Regions from separate parts of the Homo sapiens genome. Here region 2 is linked to region 1. The links come from fine-mapping of genetic effects on plasma protein levels. A gene starts in region 1. The other region holds a variant in brackets. All regions are shown on one strand. Distances are from middle to middle.

The links. PIP is the posterior inclusion probability: the model's chance that the variant is causal. Protein levels are from antibody-based Olink assays in UK Biobank. Linkage for the fine-mapping came from a reference panel and not from the study's own genotypes, which makes the PIPs less certain.
Region 2: its variant is fine-mapped to the plasma level of the HSBP1 protein (UK Biobank, PIP above 0.99).

What each region holds. Positions count from the first base shown.
Region 1 is chr16:83,804,180-83,809,499 of GRCh38, forward strand. It overlaps HSBP1 (heat shock factor binding protein 1), which reads left to right and starts at 3,799. Exons shown (of 4, transcript NM_001537.4): 1 at 3,799-3,942; 2 at 4,501-4,567; 3 at 5,126-5,246. The coding sequence starts at 3,898. The coding sequence ends at 5,244. RefSeq lists an enhancer at 3,593-4,094 and silencers at 3,752-3,928, 3,946-4,235.
Region 2 is chr16:83,768,845-83,774,201 of GRCh38, forward strand. All of the region lies in intron 11 of CDH13 (cadherin 13), which reads left to right. It overlaps CEDORA (CDH13 antisense oligodendrocyte and neuron associated lncRNA), which reads right to left and starts at 4,105. Exons shown (of 4, transcript NR_188499.1): 1 at 3,965-4,105. RefSeq lists an enhancer at 629-768. The variant C/T (reference allele first, on the strand shown) is at 2,616.

The DNA.
Region 1 (5,320 bases):
GAATGGGATCAGGGCCCAGGTCTCTCTGCCTTAGACAAACGCAGAGCCCTGTGCGCGAGGAAGAACACTGCTTCCTGAGACAGAAAGGATCGTTAGCTAGTGACACGGGGGTTAATGTAGGAACTTAGGAATGCACGCAGGACGGGAGTTAAGGGGTTTTGATGGACAGTCTCCATTTTCTCCACAAAATAGAATATAAGGTCATCCTCTGAGGGTGAAGGGGATAAAGTCCTGGATTTGGGGGGACCAGAAAGGTTTGGAATGGCTACTGAAGGGCCAGGGCTAGGGCAGCCCAGGTCACTAGAAGGAAGGGGCACCCTTCACTGACCCTGCTGTGGCACCGCCCATCAGGTGAAGGTTGCTCAGCAGCAGCATGAGGCAACCTGGGAGGAAAGCAAACCAGGGGAGCAGCTGCTGGGCCCCAGGGCTGGGCCTACAGAGCTGACGCAGGTGCAACTAGGCAAAGAACATTCCAGTTCCTCCAAGGCCCCGCTAGGATCATTCCATCGCTGCTCACACAAGGCAAACGCACAAAGCACCTCATTGCATGTGGTCACATGGACAGACCAACACCTTCCATAGTGTATTTTATTATTACTGTTTTTTGAGACAGAGTCACAATCTGTTGCCCAGGATGGAGTGCAGGGGATAGATCTCGGCTCACTGCAACCTCTGCCTCCCCAGGTCAAGCGATTCTCCTGGCTCAGCCTCCTGAATAGTTGGGATTACAGGTGCACGCCACCTAGCCCAGCTAATTTTTGTATTTTTAGTAGAGATGGGGTTTCGCCACACTGGCGAGGCTGGTCTTGAACTCCTGGTCTCAAGTGATCTGCCTGCCTCAGCCTCCCAAAGTGCTGGGATTACAGGCATGAGCCACCATGCCCAGCCACCTATCATAGTACAGATCCAAGAAAGGAGGCATGTCAAAAGAATGGCCCAGAGAACCAAAAAGCAATTATAAAAGTACCATAATAAGCGCACGTAAAACAAAACTGTCTTGAATGGAAAAAGGGAGTTACAACATGCAATTAATCTAGGAAGAGCTTTAAAAAAAAAATGCCAAGAGGAGGTAAGACAACTATGACACTTAAATAAAGGTTAAAAATGAGAGTTGTTCAAAACCGAAGTTTAAAGGTTAATTACTGGTGCCTTACACGTAATACATTAGTTTTGTTAATGGGACAATATTCAGTTAGGTTCGGTGTGTCAGCCCCACAAGGTGAGTATGTCAGCCATGAGTATAAATTAGTGAAGCTTCCGTGAAAAGCAGCCCTTTAACAGACCTTGGTCTCCACACAGAGAAAGCATACTGCCTGTCTGTTTAAGTGCAAAAAATAAAGGAACAAATAATGCCTCCACTAAAAGAGTATCAAGTTTGTTTGTTGTTCATGTAAAGCAAATTTCCAATTGGAATTTGAAAAAAAAAAACCACAAGTGTCTTACCAGAAAAGGAAAGAAAAACTCCAGATTCTCGTGCTAATTCATGTTCCTGAGTTGCCCACAGCCATAAGACAGGTTTGCTCAGAGATCCAGGGTGCAGGCACCCAGCTTTCTTTGCTGAGTGTGGGAGTCCCAGGGATTGGGGTCTAAAGTCAGAAGCCTGAGGGCTTTCTTCACCTTGGCTATTCACTAGTTTTTAAGGAGTTCTGAAGTTTTATGAAAAGTCTTTTACGATTAGCTGGGCATGGTGGTGCTCACCTGTAATCCCAGCTACTCAGGAGGCTGAGGCAGGAGAATCGCTTGAACCGGGGAGGCGGAGGTTGCAGTGAGTCGACATGGTGCCACTGCACTCCAGCCTAGGCAACACAGCAAGACTCCATCTCAAAAAAAAAAAAAAAAAAAAAAAAGTCTTTTAAGAAAACTGAGATACTGGCATCTAGTAGGTAGAAGTCAGAGATGCTGCCCAACGTCCTACAATATACAGGGTGCCCCCTCCACCACCAACAATAAAGAACGACTTGACTCAAATGCCAGTATTGCAGCTCTTGAGAAACTCTGCTCTAAGCTCAAAAAACTCAGAGAATTCTAGAATGGTGAGAAAAAAGGAGAAGATGCAGAGTCAGGAAGTCCTGCGTCTCTTACTTCCTTAATTTGATGACCTTGTTCCAGTTTCTTAACGCCTCTGCATCTGTTTTCTCAAAAATGTAAAATTATGATAATTATATCACAGGGTCTTCTGAGGATTAACTTAAAACACTGAGATATTTTTATTTCAAGTAGTCGGGTAAAGCACTAGCCAAATACCAGTTGACAACAGCCAATTACAAAAAAGTTGTGTATACTTACACAGAAAGGAAGATCTCTCTATAGGAAAGGATGAGGTGTGAAGGGTGAGGGGCAAAGGTGTGAGTGAGGGGGAAGGGGTGGTAAAGGGAGTTGAAGTCTCATGCCTCAAGGCCAACTGGATTCCGGGTTTGTTAGAGACACTGGTGGGTCTGGCAGAGGCGTTTGAACAAGAGCAACTCCATCTCGAATAGGAGCTGGGTAAACTGAGGCTGAGAACTACTGGGCTGCATTCCCAGACAGTTAAAGGATTCTAAGTCACAGGATGGGATAGGAGGTCAGCACAAGGTACAGGTCATAAAGACCTTGCTGATAAAACAGCTTGCGGTAAAGAAGCCGGCCAAAACCCACCAAAACCAAGATGGCAATAAGAGTGAACCCTGCTTGTCTTCATTGCTACACTCCCATTACCGCTATGACAGTTTACAAATGCCATGGCAACGTCAAGAAGTTACGCTATATAGTCTAAAAAGGGGAGGCATGAATCACCCACCCCTGGTTTAGCATATAATCAAGAAATAACTATAAAAATGAGCAACCAGCAGCCCTCAGGGCTCTGTCTATGGAGTAACCATTCTTTTATTCCTTCATTTTCTTAAACTTGCTTTCACTTTACAGACTCGCCCTGAATTCTTTCTTGCATGAGATCCAAGAACCCCCTCTCTTGGGGTCTGGATCAGGACCCTTTCCCGTAACAGCTCTAACACCTTACAGCCTCTCCCTAGCTAAAGTCAAACTGGAGCTGACCCCTCACATAGCACAGTCCTTAAATGAGATGTGTGAAAGTTTCCAGAACATGCCAGGCCCGCAGTCAAGGACTCTCCTATCCCCTTGCCATGAGACCCAATCCTAAAGACCACCTGTGGGGTTGGAACTTGAGGTTCCAAATCAGCAGTGCCCACCTCCTTCAACACCCAAACCCACAGTCTAACCCTGATGCCGGAAGCCTTCCCCACTCAACAGCAGGCATTGCGTGGAGTGAAAGAAGCCAGGCATGATGGACAGCTTCCTGTCTGAATCCCCTCATATGAACCTGACGGGCACAATGAACCTACTGGGCTAAACTCCAGACGCTGGCCACCTTCATAGGGTGGAGATGACAGAACAGGACAGGAGCCATGGGGCTCCCGGGGCGGGTAGGGGTGGGTCATGTTCCTTGGCTTGGGGGCAGTTACAAGGGTACAGTGGGGCTTGTTGAAGGGCAAAAGTTCTGTAAGTTCGTCCCGACAGGCCAAAGAAACCCCAGAGCCGTCTTTCGACTGACTACAGCCTGGAAGAGAGGCCAAGACCACTCCCTGCCTCTATTGCTCCATTTCTGAGTTGGTCTCACTTTCCACCCCACTGACGGCGCGCTGCGTGAGGGGCGGGGCATAGAGGGAGGGGAGGGGCTATGCGAAAGAAGGCGGGGAGAGTGGGGTGGGGCCGCTCCTTGGAACGGAAGCGCGCGGCCTCGAGGCCCTTCCGGTGCGGGAGAAACTACTACTCCCATAATGCCCCGCGGTCCCGCGAGCTGCCAGTCTCGTCGCGAGAAGCAGCGGCCCGGGGCGACTGAGCGGACAAACGGAAGTGTAGGTTACGGTCTGAGACATCACCGCCAAGCTGGGCATCGGGGAGATGGCCGAGACTGACCCCAAGACCGTGCAGGACCTCACCTCGGTGGTAAGGGACGGCTGTGAGGGCCGGAGGCCGCGGCCTTCCCGGGCGGCGCCGGGCCAAGCCCTGCTGGACAGAGGCGCGCCCACCGCGGCCGCGCGTGGCGTCTGCCGAGGCCCCGTTTCTGGAAGCGTCTCTGGCCGAGGCTCCCGGCCACCTTGACCCCCGGGGCGCTCGGTGCGGGCCAGTCTCCCCGCGGGCGCCCCCAAGCCCGACCCCTTCCAGTAGCCCCATTCATCTGTCGCGAACGCCCTCCGGGTCCCTCCCGCCTACCTCTGACACCCTCCCCGCCCTTCAACTCCTCACACACCCCCGGGTGCCCCAGCCCGGCAGAAACAACCTAAAGACCCTGAGCTTTGAGTCGCAGCGGCCTCCCCAGCCCAGCAGTCTAATTGGACAGGTTGGAAAACGGAAGCCCAGAGAAGGAAGATCTTGCTGAAGGCCGCACAGCTGTCCAGAGGCAGAAATGGGGCTGGAACCCCGGGACCAGGGCTTGCGTCCTGATCCCAGGAAGTTGTCTCAGGATCGATGTGGACCGTGTTTGTTTGTTTCGGTTTTTCTTAGGTGCAGACACTCCTGCAGCAGATGCAAGATAAATTTCAGACCATGTCTGACCAGATCATTGGGAGAAATATCCTTTTTATCTGCAGTCGGCCTCCTGTGGGCCTTTGGAGCCTATTTGCCGGGCAGTGGTGGGGATAAATGAGTAGTTTTCAGGCTAGCTTCAGCCATTCACTTGTAGAATTTGAGCTTGGATTGTACTGTGTTTCTGAGAAGGACTGCGCCGAGAGCTAGGGGCAAAGCTGAGTTAGACTCCTGGCTCAAGGAGCATACGTCTACCAATCCTAATAGCTGGTGTGGTGGACCATGCACTGTGAACTAAGCGCTTTTGTGTGTGTCTTTTGATGCTCAGCATGACCTTATGAGTGGGTTGTAGTGTTATCATCTTTAGCAAATGAATAAATTGAGGTTTAGGGGTTCCATCACTAGTAAGGGTCAGGGCTGGAATCCGATGCGGGGTAGCCATGCCCCACAGTCCTGTACTCTTACCCACCAGCGTGTAACAGTGTCGAAAGAAAATTGGAAGACCAGTTTCCCTAAAGTCGTTGTGTTTAAGGCTGTAGTCTGCAGGGACGGGAGGAAAAAGGCTCAATGAGATGTTGGCACGCGTTGTCTTTAACTTCAGCACTTGATGATATGAGTAGTCGCATTGATGATCTGGAAAAGAATATCGCGGACCTCATGACACAGGCTGGGGTGGAAGAACTGGAAAGTGAAAACAAGATACCTGCCACGCAAAAGAGTTGAAGGTGAGGAAGGGGGCAATTTTTTTTTTCTTTTCTTTTCTTTTTTTTTTTTTTTTTTTTTTTGACACGGAGTTTTG
Region 2 (5,357 bases), 35 kb before region 1:
TTGCAACCTGTTTTATCAGCAAGGTCTTTATAACCTATATCTTGTGCTGACCTCCTATCTCATCCTGTGACTTAGAATGCCTTAACCGTCTGGGAATGCAGCCCAGTAGGTCTCATCCTCATTTTACCCAGCTCCTATTCAAGATGGAGTTGCTCTGGTTCAAACACCTTGACCACAGGGTCACAGAACGAGAAGATGGGAGGGAACCTCAAAGCCATTTCCCCAAGGAAGTTGAGGCTTGGGTTTTTGAGGGCTTTGGAGTGGGCAGAAGTGTGGAGATCAAGAGTACAGGGTGAAGTCATAGGAAGGGGAGAGGAAGCAGCTGTGTTCTCATGCTGATCCTGTTCCCCTGTGGGAGACTTCCAACTGGTGGCTGGAATTCTGGGGAGGTGTGTCTGAAAAACATCTTAAGTGTCTATAGGAACAATGGGGATGCAAATCAATTCTTAAACAGTCTTCTGGCCTTAATGTCAGAGATCCTATCTAGGGGAACGGTGGGGAAGCAAATGTCAGGATCTAGTGCTACTGTAACTGAGGAACTGGTTAGCCACTCACTGCAGCAGAGTCCAATTAACAAGATCCAGGCCTGGTACAAGAAAAGTGAATTTATTTTTGAAGCTAGCTTGGAAAGACACAAAGTGTCCTGCTTTAAGTGTGCTGCTTCATCTTTGGAGCAAAAAGCAGACATGTTTATAAGGTTAAAGGGGAAGTGAGCAAGGGCAGGAAGTCCCCCTGCTAGCCTGGTGTCTTATCTACCAAACAGCTGAGTTGGCATACAGTTGAGTTGGTGCCTTCCTGGGCAGAAATAAGTTGTAAAAGTGGCCAAGTGGGCGTGTTTTCACCATGTCCTCCTGAGGCCACCCCAGAAGTGGGAGTTCCGTGGAGATGTGCTTTGATCTGCAAATTGACTGTCAATTCTGGAGAAGAGATCACTGGGGCACGTAGATGACCTTGCCTTGTAGGGAATGTGTGGTGAGGGGGAGGTGAGAGGTTATTTTGCATTTCAAAAAGGGCTAGGTAGGAAGCAGGCTGAAAGGGGAAAGGAGAAGAGAAGAGAAAAAAGTAATTAAACCACCTCAGAAAAATCAGGGTACTTGGTTACGGTACATGACCTACTGCAACAAGGAACTGGGCCAGGGTGCAGCCTGATTAACGCTGAATTATAACTGTATTTGTACCCAGAACCTGGCATGCAATTCCCGTCAACCCTGTGGGGATGGTTTCAAAACCTGACCCTGTTTCTCATTGCATCCACACCCACAGCGTCAAAGCAATGCCAGGAGAACCACGCGTGGCTCATGTTTCTTGGAGGAGTCCTGGTTCAGTTCTACAGGCTTCCCACACAAAGCAATATACTGTTGGCCATGTAGGTAAGAAAAGCACAGGAAACTGTTTTTTACCCTTTCTACCAGTGTTTAGTACCAACCACAAGCACCAAAATACTCAAACTTCGAGCTCTGTGGCTCTGGCTCTTATGGACGGGGAAGTGCTTTACAATTGCCAGGCATTCCATTCACTTTATAGAATAGCCAGAAAGCTCCAGGGATGGGGATGCCCTGCCAGGGGGCCACAGCTCTTAAACAGGTGACATGCTTGTGACTGGAAAGAGGTCCCGATCCAGACTCCAAGAGAGAGTTCTTAGATCTCACGCAAGAAAGAATTCAGTGCGAGTCCATTAAGTGAAAGCAAGTATATTAGGAATGTAAAGGAATAAAAGAATGGCTACTCCCCGTAGACAGAGCAGCCCCAAAGGCTGCTGGTTGCCCATTTTTGAGGTTATTTATTGATGATATGCTAAACAAGGGGTGGATTATTCATGCCTCCCCTTTTTAGATCATAGAGAGTAACCTCCTGATGTTGCCATGGCATTTGTAAACTGTCATGGTGCTGGTGGGAGTGCAGTAGTGAGGACCACGAGAGGTCACCCTTGTCACCATGTTGATTTTGGTGGGTTTTGGCCAGCTTCTGTACTGCAACCTGTTTTATCAGAAAGGTCTTTATGTCCTGTATCTTATGCTGACCTCCTATCTCATCCTGTGACTTAGAATGCCTTAACCACCTGGGAAGGCAGCCCAGTAGATCTCTGCCTCATTTTACCCAGCACCTATTCAAGATGGAGTTGCTCTGATTTCAATGCCTCTGACACACTAATGTTAGAGCACCTTGGACATTTTCCTTAATCTGAGTGTCTAGTTTTCTTTTCTAGAAAATGAGAAAAAACTAGAATGTAGACCCCCATGTGCTCAAAGCAACAGCCTGCCTGGTTTGCTTGGACTTTTCCTAGACTGTATGATAACAGGTGCTCGATTCCTCTACGTAAATCTTCACCTTTTATTAATCATATTACCCTGCTTCTCTTAGAAAACGCACAGTTCTGCCCTCCCTACACCAAGATCACAAAAGGCTAAGTGTAAGTCATGAGCCAACCAGACCAAGAGTAACCCAGGCAGGCCAGGTGGCCAACTTGGCCATCTCATAGGCAGTTATCACTGCTCAACTTGAAGAAATACAAGGTTAATTATTGGAGTTTGAAATCCAGCAGTGGAATCCATGTGGTCCTATCGTGGTCATATAATGTGCTGAGGCTCTTACAAGTTGTCAGTGCTGAGTGGGAA[C/T]GACAAAGCCAGAAACAAGGGCAAGCAGAGGTTGAATGCCAGGAAGACCGTGGCAGGGTGCCAAGTCCATGAAGCAAAAGCACCGCCATGGTCTAAAAGGCATAGTCCTCTAGAGCAACAGAGCCAGTAACTCAGATCCAAAGGAAAGAAAATGATAACCCTTTCCCCCTCAAGACTTGCCATTGTATGGCAGCAGGAGGGCTGCTTGCAAAATAAATAACCCACCAACATTTGTAGGTTGGAGATCTCTCAGTCAAGAGTGACAGGCTGTCACTGAAAATGGGTCGGAAGGAAAACTGTCATTCCTACTAAGCAATTTTAAATAGGCTTTGTTTCCAGATATCTGTGCCTACAAGTCCTCATTTCCTCATTTGGAAATGGGATTTGATATGGTTGTATTAGGAGGTAAAATTAAAAATATCTCCTTACATCCCATTCACACTGCTGCATGATGGAATTGCCAACCTTGTAACCAAAACACATGTCTTTCTAATAAGAAGTCAATGACACAAGAGAAAAGAGATTCCTGCAGCTAAGGTTTGCTCCTGGTATTTTCCCCATGATATCACCCAACACAATGTACACTCTGTGGGTGGAGAAGGATGGGGGGTGACTTTTTAGCTTGTATACTTATTTGAGAACCTTAAATGAGATGCCTATTAAACTATCCATGTATACAAATAGACTCAATATTAAGAAAAGAAGTAGTATAAGACTGAAAGACATGCTTAAGAGAAAGGAGGGAGCCATACTTCAGGAATGGAGAAATGAAGAAAAATCTATACTGGCTAAAGTCAGGTTAGCTAGGAGGGAACATATGAGGAAGGCCCAAGTCTTATGCTGCTAGAAGCCAGGGCAGAGGCAGTAGGCTGGAAAGGACCAGTGGTCATCTTGGAAATATGTGCTCCACTTGAAGCCATTTGGATAAAAAATAAGAATTCTTAGAACACTGGACATCCCAGAAACACGATAAATTAGCAGACCAAATGCCAGTCTGCAACTGCTGGTTAAAAAGAAAAATCCAATTACTTATAACACTGAATATAGGTCAGCAGAAACTCCCGGCATCAAAGAAACTCTGACCATAAAGACTTAGTGTATATTTTTACAAAACACTTCACAGGGCCTTGTGGATCAATCATGGATTCAATTTTGTTCTACAAATTAAAATCAAGCCATGTTTAAAGCAATCTCATTAAGTCGCTTGCCAACGGGTGCACACAGTACCACACTCCTGGTGTGACATGACCATTCTTATCATTCATTTTTGGAACCCTCCTTTCATGGATACACCACCCCTCACCTCACTTCCCTGCTTCTGCCTTACCTGTGCTTTCCCTGTGGCTTACCTGGATTATCACAACCAGATCCCCTGCAGTTTTCAGCCTTGCCAACATCTGAACATGTCAAAGAAAAATGGGCAGGACAGAGTTTGAAAGGCAAAGCCTTTATTCAAGGCTACAATAAGGGAGAGAGATTGAACTAACTCTGCTGAAACAAACAATGGGACGATTTTTAAGAGCTGGGATGAGCTAATGGAAAAGTACTGGAAGATGTTTGTGGGGAGGTTGGTCCATGTGATTAGGCATCTGTGTTTGCTAATGGGTGTTTACTGGAGTTAGGCTCCAACCCTTCCACAGAGACTGAGAGACAGAGACACTATTCCTTTCCATGATTACATTTCAAAGAGATGTCAGGTCCTTGAGAAAAGTGGTCCTGGGTTGCAAAACTAGCAACAGGTTGGAAGATTTACATCTCACAGGGACAGAGAAAGAATTTACAATTGCAAGTTTCTAAAGTAAATGCTTCAAGAAAAGAGAAGTCAAGGCCTATATTAGTCCATTCTCATACTACTGTATAGCTACTACTCGATACTGGGTAATTTATAAAGGAAAGAGGTTTAATTGGCTCATAGTTCCACATGGCTGGGGAGGCCTCAGGAAACTTACAATCATGGTGGAAGGCAAATGGGAAGCAAGGACCTTCTTCACATGGTGTCAGGAGAGAGAAGTGCTAGCAGGTTAAATGCCAGACACTTATAAAACCATCCGATCTCATGAGAACTCACTCACTATCAAGAGAACAGCATGGGGGAAACCACCCCCATGATCCAATCATCTCCCTCCCTCAATATGTGGGGATTACAATTGGAGATGAGATTTGGGTGGAGACACAAAGCCAAACCATATCAGGGCTCTAGAGTCTGAAAGAAGCCCATCTAAAGTGTAGTCCAGCACAGGGGAAGGTTATGGCCCTCTTGGTCAAGCCTATCTATCCTTAGGAGGTAAGGAAGTTCTTCTAGCCTTGCCTCAAACCCAGGGTGAGCATTAGTATATGGTGATTCTCCTGGTGGCTGAGCCACAGGCTCCAACACTGTTCCCCAGTCATGAGGCTCTAAACCACTACCCCACAGAGGCCCATTTCTATAATAAGGTCCTGCTCCCAAGCTTCCTCCTTTCTCTCCATCCTTATCCCTCCCCCTTCCCTGCCTGGCATGGTCTTGTAGCTGGAAGACGAGGCCTCAGCTCTGGGGTCTCATTTCTGCTTCACAAACCTCCATCAGCACAGACTGTCCCCATGTGGAGCCCAGCCCCCTGCTGTTATCTCTGAAAAAGATCTACTCAACTCTATAATCATTTTCGGCTACTGAGCTATTCGTCCTACAGAAATAGTAAATGCTATTTTACTGTGCATGGCCGGTGATACCAGCAAGCCTAGGACATTGGTCCCAGCGCCTATCCT